2 separate regions of the Homo sapiens genome follow, and region 2 is linked to region 1. Evidence: fine-mapped expression QTL. A gene starts in region 1. The other region holds a variant in brackets. All regions are shown on one strand. Distances are between the middles of the regions.

Region 1 (12,830 bases):
CAGAGGTACAAAGAGGAGCTGGTACCATTCCTTCTGAAACTATTCCAATCAATGGAAAAAGAGGGAATCTTCCCTAATTCATTTTATGAGGCCAAGATCATCCTGATACGAAAGCCTGGCAGAGACACAAGAAAAAAAGAGAATTTTAGACCAATATCCCTGATTAACATTGATGCAAAAATTCTCAATAAAATACTGGCAAACCGAATCCAGCAGTACACCAATAAGCTTATCCACCATGATCAAGCTGGCTTCATCCCTGGGATGCAAGGCTGGTTCAACATATGCAAATCAATAAACATAATCCATCATATAAATAGAACCAAAGAAAAAAAAACCACACGATTACCTCAATAGATGCAGAAAAGGCCTTTGACAAAATTCAACAGCATTTCATGCTAAAAACTCTCAATAAACTAGGTATTGATGGGATGTATCTCAAAATAATAAGAGCTATTCATGACAAACCCACAGCCAATATCATACTGAATGGGCAAAAACTGGAAGCATTCCCTTTTAAAACTGGCACAAGACAGGGATACCCTCTGCCACCACTGGTATTCAACATAGCGTTGGAAGTTCTGGCCAGGGCAATTAGGCAGGAGAAGGAAATAAAGGGTATTTGGTTTGGAAAGGAGGAAGTCAAATTGTCCCTGTTTGCAGATGATGTGATTCTATGGTTAGAAAACCCCATCATCTCAGCCCAAAATCTCCTTAAGCTGATAGGCAACTTCAGCAAAGTCTCAGGATACAAAATCAATGTGCAAAAATCAAAAGCATTCTTATACAGCAATAACAGACAAACAGAGAGCCAAATCGTGAGTGAACTCCCATTCACAATTGCTTCAAAGAGAATAAAATACCTAGGAATCCAACCTACTAGGGACGTGAACGACCTCTTCAAGGAAAACTACAAACCACTGCTCAACGAAACAAAAGAGGACACTAACAAATGGAAGAACATTCCATGCTCATGGACAGGAAGAATCAATATCATGAAAATGGCCATACTGCCCAAGGTAATTTATAGATTCAATACCATCCCCATCAAGCTGCCAATGACTTTCTTCACAGAATTGGAAAAAACTACTTTAAAGGTCATATGGAACTAAAAAAAAGCCTGCATTGCCAAGCCAATCCTAAGCAAAAAGAACAAACCTGGAAGCATCACACTACCTGACTTCAAACTATACTACAAGGCTACAGTAACCAAAATAGCATGGTACTGGTACCAAAACAGAGATATAGACCAACGGAACAGAACAGAGCCCTCAGAAATAATACCACACATCTACAACCATCTGATCTTTGACAAACCTGACAAAAACAAGAAATGAGGAAAGGATTCCCTATTTAATAAATGGTGCTGGGAAGACTGGCTAGCCATATGTAGAAATCTGAAACTGGATCCCTTCCTTACACCTTATACAAAAATTAATTCAAGATGGATTAAATACTTAAATGTCAGACCTAAAACCATAAAAACCCTAAAAGAAAACCTAGGCAATACCATTCAGGACATAGCCATGGGCAAGGACTTCATGACTAAAACACCAAAAGCAATGGCAACAAAAGCCAAAATAGACAAATGGGATCTAATTAAACTAAAGAGCTTCTGCAAAGTGAAAAAAACTACCATCAGAGTGAACAGGCAACCTACAGAATGGGAGAAAATTTTTGCAATCTAGTCATCTGACAAAGGGCTAATATCCAGAATCTACAAAGAACTTAAACAAATTTATAAGAAAAAAATCAAACAACCCCATCAAAAAGTGGGTGAAGGATATGAACAGACACTTCTCAAAAGAAGACATTTACGCAGCCAACAGACACATGAAAAAATGCTCATCATCACTGGTCATCAGAGAAATGCAAATCAAACCACAGTGAGATACCATCTCATACCAGTTAGAATGGCGATCATTAAAAAATCAGGAAACAACAGGGGCTGGAGAGGATGTGGAGAAATAGGAACACTTTTACACTGTTGGTGGGACTGTAAACTAGTTCAACCATTGTGGAAGTCAATGTGGCGATTCCTCAGGGATCTAGAATTAGAAATACCATTTGACCCAGAGATCCCATTATTGGGTATACACCCAAAGGATTATACATCATGCTACTATAAAAACACATGCACACATATGTTTATTGTGGCACTATCTACAAGAGCAAAGACTTGGAATCAACCCAGATGTCCATCAATGATAGACTGGATTAAGAAAATATGGCACATATACACCATGGAATACTATGCAGCCATAAAAAAGAATGAGTTCATGTCCTTTGTGGGTACATGGATGAAGCTGGAAACCATCATTCTGAGCAAATTATCGCAAGGACAGAAAACCGAACACCACATGTTCTCACTCATAGATGGGAATTGAACAATGAGAACACTTGGACACTGGGCGGGGAACATCACACACTGGGGCCTATCCTGGGGTGGGGGGAGGAGGGAGAGATGGCATTAACAGAAATACCTATTGTAAATGACCAGTTAATGGGTGCAGCACATCAACATGGCACAGGTATACATGTGTAACAAACCTGCACGTTGTGCACATGTACCCTTGAACTTGAAGTATAATTTAAAAAAATGAACTTCTTAATGCCAAATCGAATGCCAAATACCAGAAGCAAATCTCAAATATCAAAATGATACTGTTTTAGTAGCTGAAAAGTTACCAACTCTAGCCAACATGCCCTCAGCCGGAAAGGGAATTTCACCATTGCACAGTTAGGGCAGTTTTTTGGGGGAAAAAAGACAATTTCATGTTTGTTGTCATGGGATTTCACACTGAGTCTCGGAACCATTCGTTCTCTTTTGAGATGATTTATCCTATCTATTATCTGTTGAGCAGGCAGGAGGCATTCTTACTAACTCATTTCCAAATACTAAGGGCAACGATAGCTTCACTGTAGCCCCCAAATACAGACAATTAATTCTGCCAATGACAAAGTAATTAGAAAAGACATCATCAAGTGAATGATGCTTAAGCTGAGTGTTGGCTAGTTGACTGGCTGAGACAGATCTCAAGATTTGAGCTTGGGAACAGTTTAAGAGGTTTGGCCCTGTATTAGGTCATCCTAGACCCAGATAGTATGAAGAAGGCCAAGATAATTACTAGACTATCCCAGGCTTCCCAGGCCCTACTATGGCTTCCTCAGTCGAATTACAAGACCTCTAAGGTCACTTGACTACTGAGTTCTATGATGTCATAAGTAACTGATTGCGCTAGTCACTTCATATACTCATTTAAGCCCCTCTCAATTGTCAACCTAAATAACAGAGACAGGCTCTCTAAAAGATGTTTATTTGGGAATGGAACATTGCAATGGGAATATGCATGTCATAGTAAACTATGTGTGTAGTCAGGGAGGTAAAGGAAGATAAAGATTTTTAAAAGAAAAAAAGGAAGATTACATACTGGTTTTTTAAATGATTACCCTTAGCCACAAAGATCAATAACAAGAGTGATGCCAGTCTGAGGTTAGCCAGGCAGTTGCTTAGCCAATGTCCTTGTAGAAGTATCTTTTGTGTAAGGTTATGATGGCCCTTGTGTAACGTTATGGTTGTTATGGAGTCTTTTTCATTATCAAGCAAACAAATGTGAGGACTCTTCTTTCATGGCCTTCCCCAGCTCTGTTTGTCAGAGTTTTCTTAACTTTCATGACTCTATTTTCATTCTGATCAAAATGATATAATTCCACAAAATTATACTCCTAACACAACTTATCTTTGGCCATCCTGCTGAAACGAACTTTCTTCCTGATTCCCACACAAGTAATTGTGCTTTTTGGCACAGTTGGCACTTAGAGTTTTGGTTGTCTTTTCCTCTTTTCTTACTCTATTTTTTATTATATTGCCTTTTAGACTGCAGTCTTAGAGTAAACTCACACACACACACAAAAAAGGAGAAAAAGTTGCCACAAGGGTAAAGCTGTCTTCCCAAAAGGCAGAAGCTGTCTATAGAAGGAACATGTCCAGTAACTTTCTTTGGTGAGATTATAGGGAAGGGGAACAAAAATTCAGACAAAGTCCTTGGTAGAAGTTTATTCTAGGCCTTACTTCCAATATTAACTTAAAGACAAAGAATTTCATTTCCAGTACATAGTACTGTCTTTAATAGGAGAGTAAGTTAAAAAGAAAGAGTTAAAAAAAAAAAGCAGAAGCTTAATCAAACCATTTCAATTTTACTTGGGGAAGAAAAAAATCCCTGTGAAATCTCATACCTTAAAATGATACTGATTCCAGCTAAGCTTTGGCTAAACAGTACTGCTTAGTATACAGCTGATCCCTGAAAAATACGAGTCTGAACTATGTAGGTCCAAGTATACAGGGATTTTCTTCCACCTCTGCCACCCCTGAGACAGCAACTCCACTACACTCCAACCTGGGTAACAGAGCTGTCTTTAAAAAGAAAAAAATTGTTAATAAAATAACCCTTCCTCTTCCTCTTCTTCCTCCTCTTCCTCAGCCTACTCAATGTGAAGACAAGGATGAAGACCATTATGATGAATGACTTACATTTAATGAATACACTTTCTCTTCCTTATAACTTTCTTAATAACATTTCATCTTACTTTGTTGTAAGAATACAGTATATAACACATATAACATACAAAATATGTGCTAATCAACTGTTTATGTCATCAGTAAGGGTTCCAGTCAACAGTAGGCTCTCAGTAGTTAAGTTTCTGGGGAGTCAAAAGTTATATGCAGATTTTCAACTATGTAGAGGACGATACCCCTAACCCCCGAGTTGTTCAAGGCTCAACTGTAGTTCATAACACAGACTTCTCAGTCTATGTACTTGCTGCTTACCCTGCCTGGCAGAGTCTCCCCCTAAGACATCCTACAGTTCATCCCTCTGCTCAAATGCCCCCTAGCCAGAGAGGCCTTCCCTGGCCATTCCATCTAAAAGAGTAACCTAGCAAGGCCCCCCACTCCCAGCATCCCCTATTCTTTTTTTTCCCCCCTACTTGATTTCTCTCCATAGCGGTTATTGTCTGAGTGATATCATTTTTATTATCATCATTGGTTTGTTTGATTACTCCCACCAGAACATAACCTCCACAATAAATGTCTGGTTTTTTTCCTTGCAATAGTGAACTGTCCCTAGTAGGCAGCAGCCATCCAGTGAATTTGTTATACCAAGGCATGAGGATCTCTTGGGACCAGTAGTTTGAGTCTGCAGTGAGCTATGATTGTGCCTCTACACCCCAACCTGGGTGACAGAGCTGTCTTTAAAAAGAAAAAAGTTGTTAATAAAATAATGAATGAATATCATTTTCAAAGTTTTGCCAAGTTCCTAAGTTTTTGGCCAGGCACGGTGACTCACACCTGTAATCCCAGTACTTTGGGAGGCTGAGGTAGACGGATCACTTGACACCAGGAGTTTGAGACCACACTGGCCAACATGGTGACACCACGTCTCTACTAAAAAATACAAAAATTAGTGGTGGCACGTGCCTGTAGTCCCAGCTAGTCAGGATGCATGAGAATCACCTGAACCCCAAAGGCAGAGGTTGCAGTGAGCTGAGATTGCACCACAGCACTCCAGCCTGGGCGACAGAGCAAGTGAGATTCTGTCTCAAAAAAAAAAAAAAAATCCTAAGTTTTTAAAATTATGCATTAAGATCATTTTTCTTCCCATGGACTACTTGGTATGTGATAATATAACTATTTGGACTAAAAATCACGAGACTTAAGTCTCTCAGCCCTGCCATTAATTTCTTATATAACCTGGTTAGACCATTTCTCAGTTTTACCTTGTACAGCTGACATCCTATGGCTTGCAGCCATGACTAAAATCCAACAGAAAAACAGATTACATAAATAAAGATTTCTCTGTGCATGTCACCTTTAGTGATTTATGTATGGCATAAAACAAGCTTCAACTATAAGAGCTACTTTTCAAGAGGTTGATCTAAGATATACTCTATTAATATTCTCTGGCCAAGGTCTAATCTGGAAGGTTCATACTTTTAAACTGCTGACCTCAAAAACACCTATTTTCAGATACTTACAAAATACAAAGAGATTATGTTAACCCATTTCCATGCTTAAGCCATAGTGCTTTGCCCTTTATTCTACTTTCAAACTTGCTACCATTTATTATCTCCATTTCTACAATATCACGAATCTCATGACATATAACGCTTTGTGAAAAGTGTTTATTTACATTCTTATATCATCAAAATCTAGACTTTTTTTCAGCTGTACTTGGAAAACTTTTCCAAATAGATTACCTTACCCTGTAGAGCTAAAGATGAGGGAAAAAATCAATATGGGATGTTCATGAATAACGTCTGTTAACTAAATGAGACTACATATAGTGATTTGCAGTCATCAGGAAAACAGTGTTAAATATGCTAGCTGACGATTGCTATAAAGAATCTCTGAGCTGATAATTTTGAGAATTCACCCTAGTTCATCTATGACTCTCCATTTAGTATTTAAGGAGAAAAGCCTCATTTTCCAGAATCGAATAAGCGAATTAATCGCACAATTGTGTAGAATGGAACTCAGTCTGTAAAAAATCAAGACCAACGTACTTTTTAATATTCTAACATCTCCAAGTAGTAGTTACAAGTATTGTACCCATGAAGTCCAGGTAATTAATTTGTTCAATGTCACACTGTTAAAAGTCAGGTGGGCTCCAAAGCACAGTCCTAACCAGCATGCTCTACTGCCTCCTCTGAGGCAACAGCCGAAGTGCAGACCACTGGGAATAAATAGCTGCCCGGTCTTCCCCACTCCTAAATTCTCCCGACAGACCCCAAAGCCTCTCTGAGAGCCTCTCTGACCGCCCTGCGGCCCACCCCGAGTTCCCGGCATCCTCTGGGATCCCTCTTCCTGGAGCCAAAACCTACGCAGGCTCCTTTCCTCCGAGCTGGTTGCTAGGTGATCTCCGAAGGCTGTCCGAAGTCTCGCGAGGGCGGACCCGTTGCCTGATGACGAGAGTTGGGAGTGTGGCTGGGGCTGCGGATCTCCAGCAGTGGCGTTACTTCTAGCGGCTGGATACCGGGTTCTCCGCGAGATCGCGAGATCCCGAGATATTCTCCCCGCACGGAAGCGACGACTGGCCTGGCCAGAGGACTCGCGTGGGAGCGAGGTGCCGGCCCCGACAGGACGGTGAGGTATGCAGAAGTAAGGCGGGGCGCCCCCTGCGGGAAGCGAGCGCGCCCCGGAAAATGAGCGCCTCCCCACACCAAGGTGTCCAGGAGTGAGTGCGGGAAGGAACTCGGCCGCCCGGAGTTGTGGCCTCATCGTGCTTCCCGCCAAAAACGCCTTGGTACTGTCGGGACGCGGCTAAGCGTGGACGCGCCCGCATCTGCCCCTCCTCCGCAGTGGTGGAAGACACCCGCGGAGCGCCGGTGGATAAGGGCCGTTTCCTGAGACCAGAGCTGTATCCGCAGCAGGTCAGCACTTCGTGCGCCCTGTGTGCACCTGTAAGGAATGGAATTTAGGCCAGTCGGATTTTCCAAATGTGGAGTTGTGATGCCCAGGCAGAAACTTCAGTTTCTTAGGACTGAAGGTGTCATCTATGAGACAGTCGGTTCCGTGGCATTGGCAGTGATTTGCCATAGAGCTTGGACTTAACTTATATGTAGTCCACGCTCCAAAACACGCTTCCTGTAGAGAGGGGCGTAAACTAATAGATTTGAAATTGTCGAGTCCTTTGGTCTCTCAAGAACGATGGGAACTTGACAAGAAATTTCGATTATTCCCTGGTCTTGATATTACCCACATGGGAAGATACTTGCATAGAATGGTAATGGTCATTACCAATACAACCTTCTGGTAGCTATTTAGATTTCTAAGAATAAGAATAATATAAATGAATATTAGAACAGACAGTATCTACAGAATAATAATCAAAATGTAAAGTCTTGTCACTTGAACTTTTGGTCAAGTGAAAATCAAGGAGAAAACTTAAAATTATATTGCTACATTTCAGTAAGTGACTATAATTTTTAAATTCATTATCTTTTAATGCCTCAGGATCATTCTGAACTTGCTGTGTAGTATTTAATTGTAAATATAAAATGTGAATGATTTGGCTGTATACTCTGGAAATTCCTTTTAATTAAATGATTTGCTTGATTTGTCTTATTGTGGTTGTTGTCTCGTATAGTCATGGAAAATTCCTTTAACTCTTTGAAATTGAAGGTTTTATTAGTTGTATTCTAATTAGTTTTTAGAGAAGACTGTTGTGACTGTTAAATACAATTGAATATATTTTTGAGTACTCATTTAATGTAGTAAACACCTACAGCTTGAAAAGAAAAGCTGTCATATAATTTCCTTAGAAATTGTTTTACAGCCTACCCGTATATTACAAGAAATCTCAAGTCAAACACTGGAAAAGATGTCAGAAGATTCAGAAAAGGAAGACTATTCAGACAGAACAATCAGTGATGAAGATGAATCGGTATGTTTTTCTCAACTTTATTTTACTTGGAGATAAAATTTGTATTATATAAATCCCCAATTAAAATATTATAAAATCAATTGGATATAAAAATCAATTGGATGTTTAAATTATTGTCATTGAAGTTGGGAAATAATTTGGCTGAAAAAGCTAAGCTATCACTGGGAACACTATGCCCTGTCTAGAAAGAGAAACTATATTTGTATTTTTTTTGAGAAAATATTTTAGCTAAGATTCTTCTAGGTTTTATTAAAATTTGTATATGAAATTATTAGTAGGGTTTTAGTTTTAGGATTGATGTCCACTTATTTTCTTCTATGTGCTGATTGGATTGTGTTACATCGTAGTATGAATCATAGTAGAACCACCGTGTTCTAACCTTATTGTGTATCACCATAACAGTTTATTGTGGCTCTGATGTCATAAAGGAAGAGACATGGAAGAAGAAAAAGGGGGAAAAACGTAGTATTTAAAATTCTTTAGTCTTTTTCTACTACATAGGCTGCGAGATTTCCTTCAAATTTTATTAAAGTATAAATTATGTATGTAAACTAATGTCCCGAAATAAGCTCTTAAAGCTTACTTTAGCTATTTAAAGGATTTATGGCTTTCTGTGTTTTTCTTTTTGTTAATTTAATTTTTTTTTTTTTCTTGAGCCAGAGTTTGAGATCGCTCTTGTTGCTCAAGCTGGAGTGCAATGGCGCGATCTCGGCTCACTGCAACCTCTGCCTCCTGGGTTCAAACGATTCTGCCTCAGCCACCCGAGTAGCTGGGATTACAGGCATGTGCCACCATGCCTGGCTAATTTTTTTTGTATTTTTAGTAGAAACGGGGTTTCACCATGTTAGCCAGGCTGGTCTCAAACTTCTGACCTCAGGTGATCCACCCGCCTTGGCCTCCCAAAGTGCTGGGATTACAGGCATGAGCCGCCACGCCCGGCCAATTTTATTCTTAATTTAAATAGTTTTCCCGGGTTTATCAAGAATCTTTAAACTTTATTCCTTCCATAAAGTCATTATTATGACCACACCCAGTGGAAGAGGAGGAATGAAAGATGCAAACTTTAAGGTTTCAGGATATTTGAAGTGTTGGGTGCATTGAGACCAGTAGCTGATAATAATCCTTTAATTTTCTCGTTTATTAAAGGTTAAAGACATATACTCAATCCCAAGTACTAAAATAGATGTAAAAAAATTCTGGATTTGAAAACTGTTGGTTTTTAAAAGAGAAATATTTTTAAATTCTTATTTTAGGATGAGGATATGTTCATGAAATTTGTAAGTGAAGATCTTCATCGGTGTGCACTTTTAACAGGTTTGAACCTATTCATATAGTTTTTGTTTAGCATAAAACTTTGAATGGATAAAAAAGAAGATGAGGAAACTAAAAAGTCAGATTGAATAATATAGGGAATGATTATTCTAGTAGATTGTGAAAGAGAACTGTATCTACTTGCAGAGTTCAAACTTTTCAGGTTTGTTTTAGGTAAGCCTATTTTATATTAGAAAATAATAAATGAAAGTGGTGATTATCTTATATTTAACATAAGGATTTACCTTGTCATTTGTTTAAATGTATTGACTGTATGACTCAAGTTATAACGGACAGATTATGTTAGAAGTACATCTTCATTTAAACGAAGTACATTGTCTAAAGAGTCTCATTAATAAAGTCATTCATTTGCAACTGAACATGTGTGTGGACATCTTGATGTATACTTAATTTTTAAAGATTTATACTTAGAATTGTACTTTCAAACTCTAAGATATCTCTACTAAATATTTACATATGTGTCACAAATACTCTGAAATTGGAGTTAAGGCCTTTATCTTTTTTTTTTTCTTTTGTCTTTTGCCACCATCCTAAAATAAATCTTCCTGTTTGAAATAACCACCATTCTTAGTTTGGTGTGTATCATTCTAGAACTTCTTTGCATATACACATATCTATACCCATAGGCATAGAAATTTTATAGTACTGTTTTGTGGACATTTCCCTGCTACCCTTTTCTGTTTTTTAAATTTTGCCAAGCTATTAGAAAACAGGAGATAACTCACTCCTTTAACTAGCATTTCTGGGATTGCTAGAAAAATTGAGAATTACTTCTATAGGCTTATTATCTACTCATATTCTTAGTTGGTCTGAATTGCCCATTTATACTAATCCCTTTATGTTGCTTCCTTTGTTTAGAACATTACCAAAAGCAAGATGTAAAACATTTAATCACCCCTAAGTGTTCCTGTGTCTCTGCAGTAGATCCTCTCCTTCCAGGCTTCACCCCTGGCTCCAGGCAACCAGTGATTTGCGTTCCCTCCCCTATATTTGGCTTTTCTAGAATTTCACAAAACAGAATCATACATTTTGTGTTTTCTGTCTTCTTTCATTTAGCATAATACTCTTGAGATTTATCCATGTTGTTGCATATATCAGTAGTTCCTTTTTATTGTTGAGAGGTATTCCATTATGTGAATAGATCAAAATTTCTCCATTTAGCCATCCATTCATGCTCATTTAAATTATTTTCAGTTTGGGGCTGTAACAAATAAAGCTCCTATGAATATTTTTGTACAAGTCCTTGTGTGAACATGTTTTTGTTTCTCATGGGTAAATCCCTAGGAATAGTATTATTGGGTTATATGCTAACTATATACTGTATGAGAAACTGTATCTGTTTTCTAAAGTGGCTATATCCTTTTGCATTCCCAGCAATGTGTTATTTCTTCGCCAATAATTCTTAGGTTTTAATTCAGTACAAGTGTGCTTTTCCCTTACCTCATGGAGCATAATTGTAATGACTCCTTTAAAGTTCTTGTCTGATAGTTTTAACATCTGGGTTATCTTGATGTTAACATTTGTTGATTGCCTTTTGCCCTGAGAACTGGTCCTACTCCTGGTTTTCCATTATTCATGCTATGCTGTGTAGATTCTGGGTCAGTGTATTTCTTCTAGCAGGCAATCAATCCAGTTAGGTTGAAGCAATAAGTTCTGGTGCCCCTTCTGTGGATAATTCAGATCTCAGTTCTGATCTGTAAGCCTTTGCTATGCTTATTTGGTTCTTTCCCATGCCAGTGTAGTTCAGGGGTTTTGAGACTTGTATAGATGGTTCAAAGTCCTGTTTAGTTCTCTTAAGTTTTCCTTGTATTGGTTTGGGACTATCTTGCACATGTGTAATTCAGGGATTGAGCTGAGACATTTGTGTGTGGGTGGGGGGGGGGTTGGTTAAAATTTCAGTTAAGTTTTCATAGTCTCTGAGAGTGTGTCTGCTTGCATAGCTCAGGGATTAGGATGAGACTTTTGTGCACTCATACACAGGATTAGGAGATACCTTTCTCTGGTTGCTTTCTTCCCTTCAGATTCCCTCCACACTGTAAGGACCCCTTTTCCTGGGTCTTCTGTTAAGAAAGACTGGGTTTCTGATTTGGAGAAGGAATTTTTTTTGTTTGTTTTCTTGTATGTGTACATATTGTCATTTCTTAGTCTAGGCCAGAATTTCTCAACCTCTACACTACTGACCACCCCACCATGTTCTCCCATGACATCCTGTATATGCCTGCATGGTTGCCCTTGCCATATCATATCACCTAACCCTTCCTTCTTTCTGTCTGTACTGAGAACGCCTTGATCTCAGAGGCTGTCTTATCAATGTTTGTATCTCTTCCAAGCACTGGGTCTGGCACATAGTAGGTAATCACTAAATAGGATATTATCATTGTTAGGGTGGTGTGACTAAATTATTCTGCTCAAGAGAAAAAGAAAAGGCTACTCTCAAGCATTTTGGAATCAAACATTTATAATAAAAAATAACTCCAAACTTTAGTAAACAGAAAAAAAAAAAGACTCAGTTTCTATCTGAGATTTAGCCATTTGCACCACCACACTTCTCTGTGCATGAGGCCTGCCATTCAGCAGGCCAGAGCAAACAAGGGGCTGGACTCACCTTCCTGTGGGGGTGCTTCTCTAAGTATTAACTCTACAGTCTGCTCTTGTTTACTTTTCAAATTCTTCAGATAGTTATGTTTTTGTATTTTATCTAGAGTTTAGTTGGAATTAGTGAGAGAGAAGGCCTTTATAAGACTTATGTTGCCACAGCAGGACTAGAACTCTTGTTCATTAACTTTTGGGTGAATGACAAACTTGCAAATTTTACATGTGGTTGCTGGATTTTGTTGTATTCAGTTAAAGAATGTTGGACTTTGTCCTGATAAGCAGTTGTTTTGCTTGTGGATCAGTTTCATTACTTTGAGGCTTGCCTTTCAGCTTTGTTAGAGTGTGTCCAGCCACAACAGTCTTTACTCCGGGGCTGAGTTCATTATTTAGGTGTCAGCTCACATGTTACCTCTTCAGAGAAATCTTGCCTGACCACCCTATCTAAAATAGCATTCTTACTCC
Region 2 (12,830 bases), 140 kb before region 1:
TTGTCTTACCTTCTGGTTGTTTTGATAGAGTTGGGAAAGTTCTCTTCAGTTAAATGGGGCTGAGCTGATCTACAACTCATCTTCCATTTTGCAAGACTCCTTCAACCTCTGGTTTGCTCCTTCTCCGTGGCTGAACTCTCCAAGTGTCCTAATGCCTCCAAATTAATTTTGGTTTTGTGGAATATTATCCAGAGTTTCTAGTTATTCTCAATGAAAGCACTGGACTGCCACAAGCTATTCCATTTAGGCAGATACCTACGTCAGTCTAGCTACATTCCACAAACTCATCAACAATCTCCTCCAAAACATTTAAAGAAAAATGTTGTGTAGAACTCAAAAAGGTAAAAGAAAATGTCAGTGTTGGCAGCTATGGCTGCTCCATGTATCCTGTCATGGAAGGAGCTTTGGAATAAAACAAACCTGGGTTTTAATTCTAACTTGTCATTTATTAACTGTGTGACAATGAATCTTACTTCCAAGTGGGGATAATAAAAAACAACTAGTTTCACAGTTTTCTTGTGAAGATTAAATGAAAGAACAGATATCAAATACCTCGCAAATAGTAGGTATTCAATAAATAATAGATATTATTATGTAATATATTATAATTTCTCTTAGAGTTATAAAATGCACTCATCTCTTAGAAATAATAGAGAAGGAGTCGGGATAGGTGGACTTGAAAAGCAACACTCTTCTCTGAGCACCCTGTTAGATGCTGAAAAGGGGGAACTTGGTTGAACTTGTTTTATTCAAAATGATATCAAGGTCATTCACATACACAATACATTTTTTTCGTGGAAAGATGGTAGAAATAAATCATCTGAATTGAGTACTGTGGCAAATCTATTCCAAATGCTTCATTTTATAGATGAAGAAATTGAGTGGTTAAATGACTCGTACAAGGTCAATTCACTTGTTAGTATTTATTTAAATGACCCAAATTCCCTAAGATCATATATTTCTTTTCTTCTAACATACTCCTAGCTCCCATGTTTAACTATAAATGTAAAGCAGAGACAATTAATAATGTGTTATTATTACTAGCTCATTCTAACTAAAACCCATCGATCTATTTTTAAATATTTTATTTTAATTTCCATCCCCACAAATTATGTGACTTCCTGCCAACTATGATTGAAATAGGTACTTGCCATTCCTTTCCCATTTTAAGGATTATGTCCTGTAGCTTTTCATTTTTCTGTCTGTTATTAAGAAATGATCTGCCTTATCCTCTAATGTATGAAAGGAGCTCGTGCAAGCCTGTAGAACACAGCTCTCTTGAAGTCTACCTAGCAAAAAAGGGAGTGGGGAACCTCCATCCCTCTGGGCACTGGATACAAAGGTGATCATGTGCTTCTTTGGCACTTTCATCTCTGGGCAGGGACAGATCCTCATGCTTTCCAGCAAAGGCAGCCCTGTGGGGATCGTTTTTTGGTAAGACCCTGTGTCCAGCACATCTTTCAGCATTGTGTACTCTACGAACAGACATATGAGCCTGAATCCCACATGGACTGAGTAACTTGGAAGTTTCATGATCCCAGAGCACACAGCCATCTCATAAAAGCCTCACACCAGGCTTCTCAAGGGCTCTGCCTGGAACATGCTTCCTTCAGATCTTTACATGGGGGGGCTTCTTCCTAGAAATGTGTTTTTAGCCTAGATGTCTCCTTTTCAGAGAGACTATCCCTCACCATCCAACCTCCAGGGACCCTCAGTGGACCTCTTTACATCCTGCTGTTTTTTATTTGCTCACTCACTATCAGAAATGTATGGTGTCTGAACTCCAGCAGAGTATAAGCTCCATGGAAGCAGAGCCCTTGTACATCACCTTGTGCTGTGTCCTGAAGCAGAGGACTCACTCAGTGAACAAGCAAGTGGGCTCCTGTATCCACCAAATACACCCAGCATGGTGGGTCAGGCCCTGGCTTTGAATACTGGCCTCACCACTAGCTGGGTGAATTCAGGCAAATGACTTCAGCCAAGAAACTTCTCAGTGCTTATCCTAAGATAAGAATATGTATTTTACAAGGTTGTTACAGTCATCAAATGAAATAATGTGTGCAATGTGCTTAGCACAGGGCCTACCACTGAAAAATACTTAACAAACAATAGTTATTATTATTATTTCCATAATGAAAGCAAATCATATTATGAAAAAGTCACAGAGGAATTGTTTTATAAAAATGGTAATGTTGAAATCAGAGACCCTAATTCAACCATGTAAGATAAAATTTTAAATTAATGAAAATCTGGGTCTTCTTGTTAGTTATTTACAATTATTTATTTTTGTAAAGGATCCCTAATTTAACCTTTGCAATGATTCTCTGTTGAAATAAGTTATCATCTCACCCTCTGCTCTTAGTATCCATTTGGAAAATGCCATCTTTCTGAGAATACTTGCAGTAGAAATTTTAAATTAGGATATTAACCATCTCCTGTAAATATATGCTAGCAATGTTTTTCTATTTGTTTAATCTAGAAAGGTGCTAGTTACAGTTTTTCATGCTACTGAATGACTTTAGCTAGAGGTTTCCTGGGGGTTCTAAGAAAATCACTATTCTTAGGGGACTAGAAATCTGATCAAGAGGGAAGAAATTACTTCTTTCTTTTTATTACACCTTGGTTCTCCTATAGTAAATGTTTTCATATAAAACTCATTTCTCCCCATGCCCGAGGAGATGGTTAAATCAAAGGAGCAATAACTAGTGCCTGGCTGTTTGCCACTGGCTGCAATGGGGACTCGGGGAGGAAGACAGGCTCATTTGCCTAACAGGGCCCAGCTCCCTTCCCGTCTTCCTTCATCTTGGGCCTTTTCCTTCCTTACTACCTCCGGTCTAGACTCAGCTTTCCCTGCAGAGACCTTTGGCAACTGCTTCTGAGCCAGGGCAGCCAGCATCTGTGTGTCGGGCACTGCATTAAAAGCTATGGCTTAAAGGGCTCAAGGGAGGAATGGTTCACCCGGGCGTCTATTTGAAGTTGCGAGGTAACTGATGGGAGAGAAAGATCTTAAACAGGGAGTAAGAGCTTTAGCAACTCTCTGGCCCTTAGACCCTAAATCTGAAAATAGAAAGGAAAGAGATTATCTGAAGACAAACTCCACTGTTAGTGACTCTGCCATTCATTTTATGTTTTCTCTTGAAAGCCTTTCTGTCTTTGTCTCACTAACAAGGTAGTTCATGGACATACATAGACACTACAGACCAAAAAAGTTTTCCACTTATAACATTTTCTTCCTTCAGTTTCCCTTTATTCATTCTCAAATTTTGAAATAAAATTACTGAGGGGATTGGGAGCAGTGAAAAAGAAACTTGGCAATTAGATACTATCCCTGGGTTTGTCTTAACTATACCTCCTTCTCCAGAATAATTTATTCAGAATAAATGGATGGACTTTGCGATAACTGTATTTTCCTTAAAATGCAAATGCACAATAGCTATTTCTACCCCTGCCTTACTTCTCCCTTTAGATTCTAACTAACAACAGTACTTGAGGAAGAAATGATATTTGAAAATATATAGTCTGTATTAGCTAAAATTCATTCAACTGAATTATGTTTCCATCCTCCTTTTATTCCAGGTATCATTGGAACATTTCAAGATCATCAAATCAAATTCCACAGGGATTGGTGACCAACCAGAAGGCTCAGACATCTGATTGCTGACCTGTGAGTAAAGTTTATGTTTTATTAATACTTTGGGCTCTGCTCTTAGGAATTACACAGCCTCTGTGCCTGATATTCTAAATTCTTACATCTGAAGATGCACTGTGAGAAACCAGTTTTTCTGCTGTGGCCCTCCTACTTTACTTGCCAGTTAATTAATCAGTTAGAATCTATCAAGTTTTGAAGGATCTATCAAGTCTTTTATCCTGTTTTGTAATCTGATTTTTTTTTTTTGCTTTATTTTTAAATGTTTCCTGCAATGTAATATCTTTCACAAAACAGTCCTGGATCAATCATGAAGTCTTCACTTCCTGTGAAAAATGCTAGTGACTTGAATCAATAAAGACAACATGAGTCAGCCTTCCAAGGTGAATAAGCTCACCTTTGTGCAAACACTGGTGATCTCAGGAGTGCTAAGTACCCCTCACTTTCAACAAATCTCTCTCACCTGGGAGGAAAACTTCTACCAGAACAAGGACCACCTAGGGAGGTGAAAGAGGGGATTTCCACTTTAGAGGATGGAGAAACCAAAGGGCATTTCACTCATTCACAGTTTTGCTGAGCTTGGCTCCAGTAGGTAGAAAAGTTCTTCAGGAGTTCAGCACACCACTCAGGCAATTGTTGTTTCAAAATTCTATCTGTTGCCCCCATGCAAGTTTTCTCAGGCTACCATAGTGAAAATCCACAGACTGGGTGGCTTAAACAACAGAGATTTCTTTTCTCACCATTCTGGAGGGTAGAAGTCTGAGATCAAAGTGTTGGCATGGTGGATTTCTCGAGGCCCTCCTTGCAGATGGCCACCTTCTCCCTGTGTCTTCACGTGGTCCTCTCTCCGGGCACACACCTGTCTGGTGTCTTTCTCTCTGTGCCCAAATTTCCTCTTCTTGTAAAAACACCAGTCATATTGGATTAGGCCCACCCTAAAGACCTCATTTTAACTTAATCACTCTTTGAAGAACTCATCTCCAAATGCGGTTACATTCTGAGATCCTGAAAGTTAGGATTTCAACGTATGAATTTGGGGGAAATACCATTCAGCCCATAATGCTGCCACCATCATTTTCCCTCTCTAATATGCTGACTTTTTGTTTATTGCACGTGGGCTTCCCTCTGTTTCTCCCCTCCTGAACTCTTTTAGCGATTACATTACTCTCAGAGCATCTGCAGTTCTTAGAGTGTATTATAATCATTTGGGTACAGCTCTCATTTCCCTATGACATTCTATAAATTCTGAAATCAGAGAGTGTGCCTTTTACATCTCTCATAGCACTAGAGGAGGTTTTGTATACAGTAGACATTTTGTAATATTTATTAAATGAATGAATGAATGAATGGAAAGAGGATTAGATGCAGCCTCTGAACCTGCAATTTATTTGCTTTAAGACTGTCTCCAAATGATGAGTATTAAAGATGCTTTCTCCTCACTTCCTGCCCCCCAAGACAGGTAGAAATAAGTTAAGGCTGAGGAGAAAAATTGAAAGAAAGGTGTGATTGACTAATAGCAGGAGAGTTACCTTTCTCCCAGAGGTAGGAAATAGTAAATAGCACAAGCATGCCCCAGTTAAGGTGGCCTTTCCACAAGAAAACTGTTCGGGGATCCAAGAGGGACTTACTGAGTTTGAAGCCTGTGGGACATGCAAGGGCATGTGTCTAGAAAACAA[T/C]GCATATGCAGGTCTGAAGGTCAGGTGAGAACCAGAGATGTTCACAGTCACCACCTACAGGCAGGAAGCAGCAGTGTGTCAATGAATGAGGCCACCAAGGAAGACTGTGTAGAGGGAGAGGAGCAGTGGCTTAAAGATTCCATCAGAAATTGTGTATGGAAATTTTTCCTGCTAGATAACAGGAGAAGGACCCGTCCAAGAGGAAGAACACTGCACGATACTTCTAATGAAGCTGTGTGAGAACATGTAGATGAGCTAATGTGTGTGTCTATTTTTTCTCCCCTAGTGTTTTTGGACCTATTTTGTTCCTTCTCTGTCCTGTCTTTTGGGGGCTATGCCCCAAACCATTCCTGTGAGCCTTCTCCTACCCACCTTTGCTCCCTTCTAGCTAACTCCACCTATGGTCATTGTCCAACTCCCCTGCTGCCTGCTCAGGGAATCTTAGACAAACTTCCTTTGGGCCCATTTTCTTCATCAGCCAATCAGAGCTGATCAGAATGGACAGGAGGGGAGGCCAGGATGAGAATCCTTAATGACCAAAGAGACAGAGGCAGGTCGTTTTCAGGGTCAGGTGGCTGTGACGCTATGGTCACAGAGCATCATCTTGTTTAGTCAGTAAAGGCCCCAGATAGGGGTGGAGGGCTGTGCCTCTTTTGCCCTGAACTCCCTCCTTTGTCCATTGTCCCCTGCTGATTGTCCCACTCCACCTGTTCCCCAGAATAAGCTTTGGCAGTATTTTAGGGTTTCCCTGCCAGACCAGAGAGTGGAGGGGCCAGGCCATGGCCCCTGACAGTCATTACCAGCCTCCCCTCTCTAGGCCTCACCATCAAATGTCATTTCTCACGGAGCCATATTTACCCCTGGGCTGAATTTCCCTAATTTGCCCTGCTAGCATGATGCAAATAAAAGGGGTAAAGGTATTTATTCATCTCTCTTTTATTTTCCAAAGTGTTATTTCTTTTCCTTTAAGTTCTCTCCTTGCTTTATGTTTCTTCTCTCTCCCTTAGTTCTCCTTCCTTAGTAGAAACCCTTGAGCTTCAGGGTGATTTTCTGATTATGAGCAGAAGAGGCTATCAGAGATCTGGAAGCCACCTCCTGCATTTCTTTATTCCCCCTCCTCACCCAATTGTTTTAAATGTACATTGAGATACCAGCTTTCTTCAAGAACCCACTTCCACACTTTCCTCTTTGTGTTCTTGGAGTAGCCAGGAAAAAGATGCCCATTTTCTCGAAGGTACCCAAAATGTCAGTGACACTTGGGTCAGTGATTTTATGCAAATTACTAATTATATCAAATGAGAAATGTTGAAAGCAAGAGGAAACCCTTTGCAATCCATGAATGGTCTAGTTGGGGTGTTCCAATGAATGATGGCCAGTGGCCAACATAGGTGCCTCCCGACTGTGTTTCATTAATTTCAGTCAGCTCGTGGGCTTGGAGAGAAAGATCATTTTCCTATGAGCACGTAAAAGAAGTGCTTTGAGTTGTAAGCACTTCGAAGGCTTTGCCCTTGTTTTCGAATGGGAGATTTTATAACCACTGTGGGCCAGTATTTTTGAAGTCAGTCGAAGCTCCAGATGGAGTGGAAAGAGAAGCTTGGGTTTTTATTTTCTTCTTCTTTTCTTGAGTTTTGCAGAATGAGCCTCCCTGGAAACCTTGACAAAGTCCTTAGTCTCCTTTGGTTCAGGTGGGCCCAAGCTTTTTATAGTAGGATCTGAAGGGATCTTTCTTAAACTAAGATTCCTTCCTGTGGGTTTTTAGTAGTGGCTGTAGAACTAGGCTTATATGGGAGAAGGTCTGGAATCCACTCCCTTCCCTGGGAGTCTCCTCTCAAGGAGACCACTCTCAGGGTCCTTGTCATGAGATATGAGAAGAAAAGTCCACAATGAGCCTGGGCATAGTCCAGATTTGGTTAAGGATTGAGGGGACACGAGGTCACAGGTCCCATGGGACTCCCAGCGTTCTGGAAACCTCCATAGTAAAGAGGGTAGAGGACATTCCAACACCACCACGTGCAGCTTTAGTAACCTTGCCCAAATAAACGTGTTTCCCCGGCCAGGGAATTGCACCTGGTCTTAAGAGGCACCTCCATGAAAACACACCTTTCTGCCTGGCATGACCATTGACAGAGAAAGACTGTGCTGAGAAGGGGGATACAGCAGGGAGAAAAACACACAACGGTGCCAGGAGCTCTTGTCTAGAACTCCTTTCCAGGCTTTTTTTCCCCATAAGCGCAAGTGAGTACACAAGTAAAGAGAAAAGAATGATTGTGCTATTTAGCTTTGAACCAAAAACTATCAAGCCTTTCCTAAGGTTCCAACTGGAATAGCATTTGTACAGTTACAGGACACAGACTCAATTGCTTCTGAACTCTGCTTTAGGATGCCTAACAGGATTAAGTTGTGAACATCTCATACCACGCCGTGCAACAGTACTCAAATAGGACTTAAGCAGAACAAACAGTCTGGGGAAAAAAAAAAAGCCCTAAGACATTTTCCTTCCTACTATTCTCTGTATCCCAGGCTCAACTTAATGCCAAATTAAATCTGGATTTTTTTTTAATAGACGTTTCCTAGAGGAAAAGGCAGAGCTGCATTCCCTGAAACATATTTTAGCCCAAACTTATAACTTGGATTTTTTCTTTCCTCCTCCCTTTCGCTAATTCAAAACAAAATGTCCATCACGCACTCTAACACCAGCCTCTAAGAGCTAGAGACAAATGAAGTCTGAATATTCACGCCAATGTGGTACAAATGAGCTGTGATTTCAGGATGCTGGCTGTTTTACTGACAGGGGAAAAGGGCAGTTGACTAGTTTAATATATTTGGCTGAAAACACTTTGCTAAAGAGCAGTGAAGAAGGCCAATGTTAATAATGAATCCTGTTCTTTAATGACCAAATATGATATATCATGGAATGGGGCATCCTGAGTTTGGGGGAAAGCATTTCACCATATCCACAGGATGCAGACGAGAATGAATGCAAACATACTGCATTCATGTTGGGCCCTAATGAAGAAGCTCTTCTAGGAGTATTTTCTCCAAGTTCCTCAAAGAATTCCTCCCATAAGTATATGATACCATGATTTTGAATCTGATTTCACACAGAATTACAAAATTATAAATATAAAGACATTTGTTATTATGAGAGACTCCGGGAATCTAGCTAACTGTCTCCCATTATTGGCTAATGGTTTATAAATTTTAAAATGCAATTATAAGTTGGGGTTGATGAGGGAAGCCTGTGACCACCATTAGCACCTTCCTTAAATATGCATATTCAGTCAGTCGTTAATTCATTCATTCTACAGATATCACTGGATTGGACCTTCTCCATCTCACGTGCCATATTAGTTCTGTGTTACATTTGCAATTCTAGTATTCCTTACCATAAAATGGGCTTTTTTTTAATTAAATGCAATGGAAAATTTTGTGAATCCAATGACGTGTTCAGTGACGTAAATTGTGATTTCTAATACTGTATTTATTTTTCATTGGCTTCGTCTTGGCAAAGGGTCATAATATTTTAAATTTCTCTGCCCTCTCATCCACCTATCACACTTTATTATGCGGTTTATAGGCAAAACACAGGCATGCACTGGCTATATCTGTAAATCTACTTTTCTGCAAATCACTTGAAGGGTAATGCATAATTGCCCCCTACATTATTGTTTCCTAGATTCTAACTTTTGTATAGAATGTTGTTAAAAGCAGATTATAATGTAGTTCCAAGTATGCTGCTTCCTCTGTATCCATAGGGGATTGGTTTCAGGACTCCCGAGGATACCAAAATATACTGATGCTCAGTTCCCTGATATACAATGGCACAGTATTTGCACATAATCTATGCATATCCTATCGTATACTTTAAATCATCTCTACCTCTAACACCTAATAAAATGTAAATGCTATGTAAATCACTGTTATACTGTATTTCCTATTATATTTTTTATTGTTGTATGGTTTTTTTAATTGCGTTGGTTTTTTTTAAAAATATATTTTTCTATCCCTGGTTGATTGAATCTATGGATGCAGAACCCATGGATATGGAGAGCTGATAGTAATTGAATTTAAAAGCAAAATAAGGGTGCTGTGATATTTTTATGAAATGCTCATGAGAATCAAAGATGAGAGACCAGAAGCCAATTTACCGTGAAGTCAGTAGAGTTTAAGCCGCAGGGCCTCTCATGGGGAGAGGTCCCTGCCTCAACACCCCCATGCCTAACTTTTTACATTTACTATTGTATTCTGGTTTTCCAAGAAGGCCTCTCAAATAATCTTCAGGTCCCACAAAACCTGGATCTGCCCTGAAACTGACACAGATATACTGAGATGATTTAGCATCGTGTCTAAAGCTAATTAAGTAAGCAAAGCAAAGAAATGGTCAAAGTGTGAAATGTGATCATTTATTTTTTTAAGGCTTTAAGACAAATTCAGCTTATTTTCTAAAGTGAACCCCACTTAAGTGAAATAATAAATCAGTTTGCCAAGGCACAAGTGAACATAAACAGAAGATTCATTTTTACTTCATTAATAAACATCAAATATGAACGGAACCTAACATCAAGCAGGCCAAGGCCTCCTGCTGACAGGAAACAGCTCCTAGTAAGAGCATTTGTAGAAGAACATAAATCCTTCCAGGCAATCACGTGATCATTTCATCATTGAGGTCCTTGCTACAGTCTACTATGTATTATCCATTTACAGGTCTTGTGAGATGTAACAGAGTGTTGTGATTAAAAGCACACAATCTGGGGCTGAGTTGCCTGGATGTAGACCCCAGCTCTACCACTTACTAGCTATGTGACCTTGGGCCAATGACTCACCTTCTCTGGGCCTCTGTCTTTTCATCTGTAAAATGGAAATAATAAGGATTGTCACAAGGATTTAAACTGATATTATCACAGTTCTTAGAACTGTGCTTGGTACATAGTAAGTGCTACATAACTGTTGTCGAAAGAAATCAACTTATCCATCTAGAATGAAAGCTATATGGGATTGCTTGTGGGTTCACTCTTGCAACTCCTCACAGTGCCTAACATGGCACATGGTCAGCCATCAGTGAAAGACAGCAACCCAGGGCCCATGCTGCCCTGCAAATGTGCTTCCCTTGTCCACCCTTGATGTGGTTTGGCTTTGTGTACCCACTCAAATCTCACCTTGAGTTGTAATATTCCTCATGTGTCATGGGAGGGACCAGGTGGGAAGTAATTGAATCTTGGGAGTGGGTTTTTCCCTGTGTTGTTCTCATGATAGTGAATAAGTCTCACAAGATCTGATGGTTTTATAAAGGGGATTTCCCCCACACATGCTCTCTCTAGCCTGCTGCCATGTAAGACGTCCCTTTGCTCCTCATTCACCTTCCACCATGATTGTGAGGCCTCCCCAGCCACGTGGAACTGTGATTCAATTAAACATCTTTCCTTTATAAATTACCCAGTCTCAGGTATGTCTTTACTAGCAGTGTGAGAATAGACTAATACAAGCATTTTTTTCAAATTTTGAGTCTGAATGCTCATAGGGATGCAGGGATGCATATGTTCTCCATTTTCCCATAAGCTACCACTCCCCAAATAGTTACCTCTTTGGTCCTTTAAGCTATTTGAGTTTGTCATGCCTGATATAAATGAATGATCCCATAATACACGAACACTGCAACAGTTAGTGGCAGTTTTATGGCTCACTGGAGTAAAGAGATGGGCCCATAAGGAAGTGAAATATGAGTCACTTCCACTCCCTGATGCTCTACCTGCAAACAGTGTTCCGGTTAACCTACCTATCCCTGTTTCTAAACTAGAGGTCTCAGAAGGGAAATAGGAAATCAGGAATCTGAGCAAGCACTTGCTTAGAAACAGAGACGAGTACAACCTAATGTCAGAGCTGGCCAAGACTCTATCAGTCATGACAAGCTAGGTTATGCTGGTGTCAGAAACAGCCAAAATCTCAGCAACGTCAAAATGAACGTGTGTTTATCACTCATGCTTTGTCACTAACCCTGGATAGGCAAGGGTTTCTAGTCCACATCACTGTCATCCATGCTTAGCCACCCCTACTGACAATGACTGTCTGGAAATCTTACCAACCATGATGGAGAGAAAAGAGCTCTTTGGAGGGTCTCCTATTGGCAAGTCTACCCCAGAAGTGACATGATACTTCTGCTCAAAACTCATTGGCCAGAATTAGCCACTTGGCCCCAGATGACCACAAGGGGCAAGCACAATACTATAATGTGCCCAGAAGAAGTAAAACAAGAATATGGGGCAAACAGCACAAAGGATCACAGCTGTGACATTATTTGGAACTTGGAGTCTCAGGCCAGAATTCTTAAGCTTTTCAATGAGTTCAACTCAGCAAATATTTCCATTCATAAATAACTGCACAGCAAAGTACTCAGCACTGTGAGGGGATGTCAGAGGAGATGTAGGCCTTGACACTGAGCAGCTTCAGACTTGGTCAAGAGAAAGTGATGGTACAAAACATTTGAACAGCAAGGCCATATAGTATTGATCACCAAGAACAAGGCCAATAATTGCTGTAGAAGCTGAAAGGGAGGGTGGTTCTGGGATAAAGATAGGACTTGAGCTGGACTCTAGAAAAATATAGGGGATTTGCAGGAGTGGAGGGCACTTCAGGTTATGGGCAGCAAGAAGCCAGAGACAAAGGCCCAGAGGCAGAAATGAGGGTGAAATTATTGCAGGATTCAGGAGTTTGGCTTGGCTGTAAGTTGTGTTTGCATGGGAGGGTAGGGTGGGGAGAGGAATCATGTGATGGATAGAGTGGAGCCATTTCACAGTGAGTTTCTGGGTTCTGCAGAGAAACAAGATGGTGGTATGTGGGAGGAAGATCATTTTTCCTGAATAACTCCATTCAAAACCAAGGAATTTGCACCTCCCAATCACCAGCCTTTCCCAGCACATTTATTCCCCAAAACAAGAGTCCTGAATACCCAACAGCTTCCCAGACCTTCTAGGCAGTCATTGAATGGAGACAGTAGTAAACCCTGGGCTGCTCCTGCCTCCAGTTTAAAGCATCTTTGATCACTTCTGCTGACAAAGAATATCCAAGTTCAAGTGAAATAGCCTCTTATTGCTGGGGTCAGTGTAGCCTTTTTGCTATGTAACATCTGTTTTTAAGATTCGGCTGAGAGCTGAGACCTTGACTTAAATCTGTTTAACTTAAAAAGCAGCAAGAGAACATCTTGTTTTCATGAATGTCCAGGGGCTGTGTGTCAACAAATAAAAGGTCTGCTTGTGGTACTCAAAGTGGAAAAGCTGGTTGTGAGATGTTCTGCCACTGGGATAAATTTATTATGGACTGTTTGTCTCTTGGAATCATGCACCAGCATTTGAAAATAAATCAGCATATTTCTGCTTGATGGCGTGTTAGAACCATGCTTTTATTGTCGGAAGTTCACAGAGCTGGATGGGTCTAGAAAGATGCCCTCTTTCATGCCTCCCACCTTAGCTGCATGAAGTTAATGTCTTAACGTGGATTCCCCGGGTCTGCATGAA

Alleles and levels. Alleles are on the strand shown, and positions count from the first base shown. SD is a standard deviation of normalised expression in the study named.
In carriers of allele C in region 2, the expression in gastroesophageal junction of the gene that starts at base 6,953 in region 1 tends to be lower than with T alone (small effect, 0.20 SD a copy in GTEx).

What was found. PIP is the estimated chance that this variant, and not a neighbour inherited with it, causes the effect. A credible set is the group of variants that fine-mapping cannot tell apart.
Region 2: its variant is the best candidate, but not a certain one, in a credible set for the expression of AGBL3 in gastroesophageal junction (GTEx, PIP 0.73).

Annotation. Positions count from the first base shown.
Region 1 is chr7:134,979,556-134,992,385 of GRCh38, forward strand. It overlaps AGBL3 (AGBL carboxypeptidase 3), which reads left to right and starts at 6,953. Exons shown (of 17, transcript NM_178563.4): 1 at 6,953-7,146; 2 at 8,320-8,441; 3 at 9,695-9,755. The coding sequence starts at 8,379. RefSeq lists enhancers at 6,855-7,154, 7,165-7,304, 7,385-7,644, 11,894-11,943.
Region 2 is chr7:134,840,308-134,853,137 of GRCh38, forward strand. It overlaps CALD1 (caldesmon 1), which reads left to right. Exons shown (of 15, transcript NM_033138.4): 2 at 3,577-3,664. It overlaps LOC124901750 (a long non-coding RNA gene), which reads right to left and starts at 3,577. Exons shown (of 2, transcript XR_007060537.1): 1 at 1-3,577. RefSeq lists an enhancer at 4,698-5,897. The variant T/C (reference allele first, on the strand shown) is at 5,323.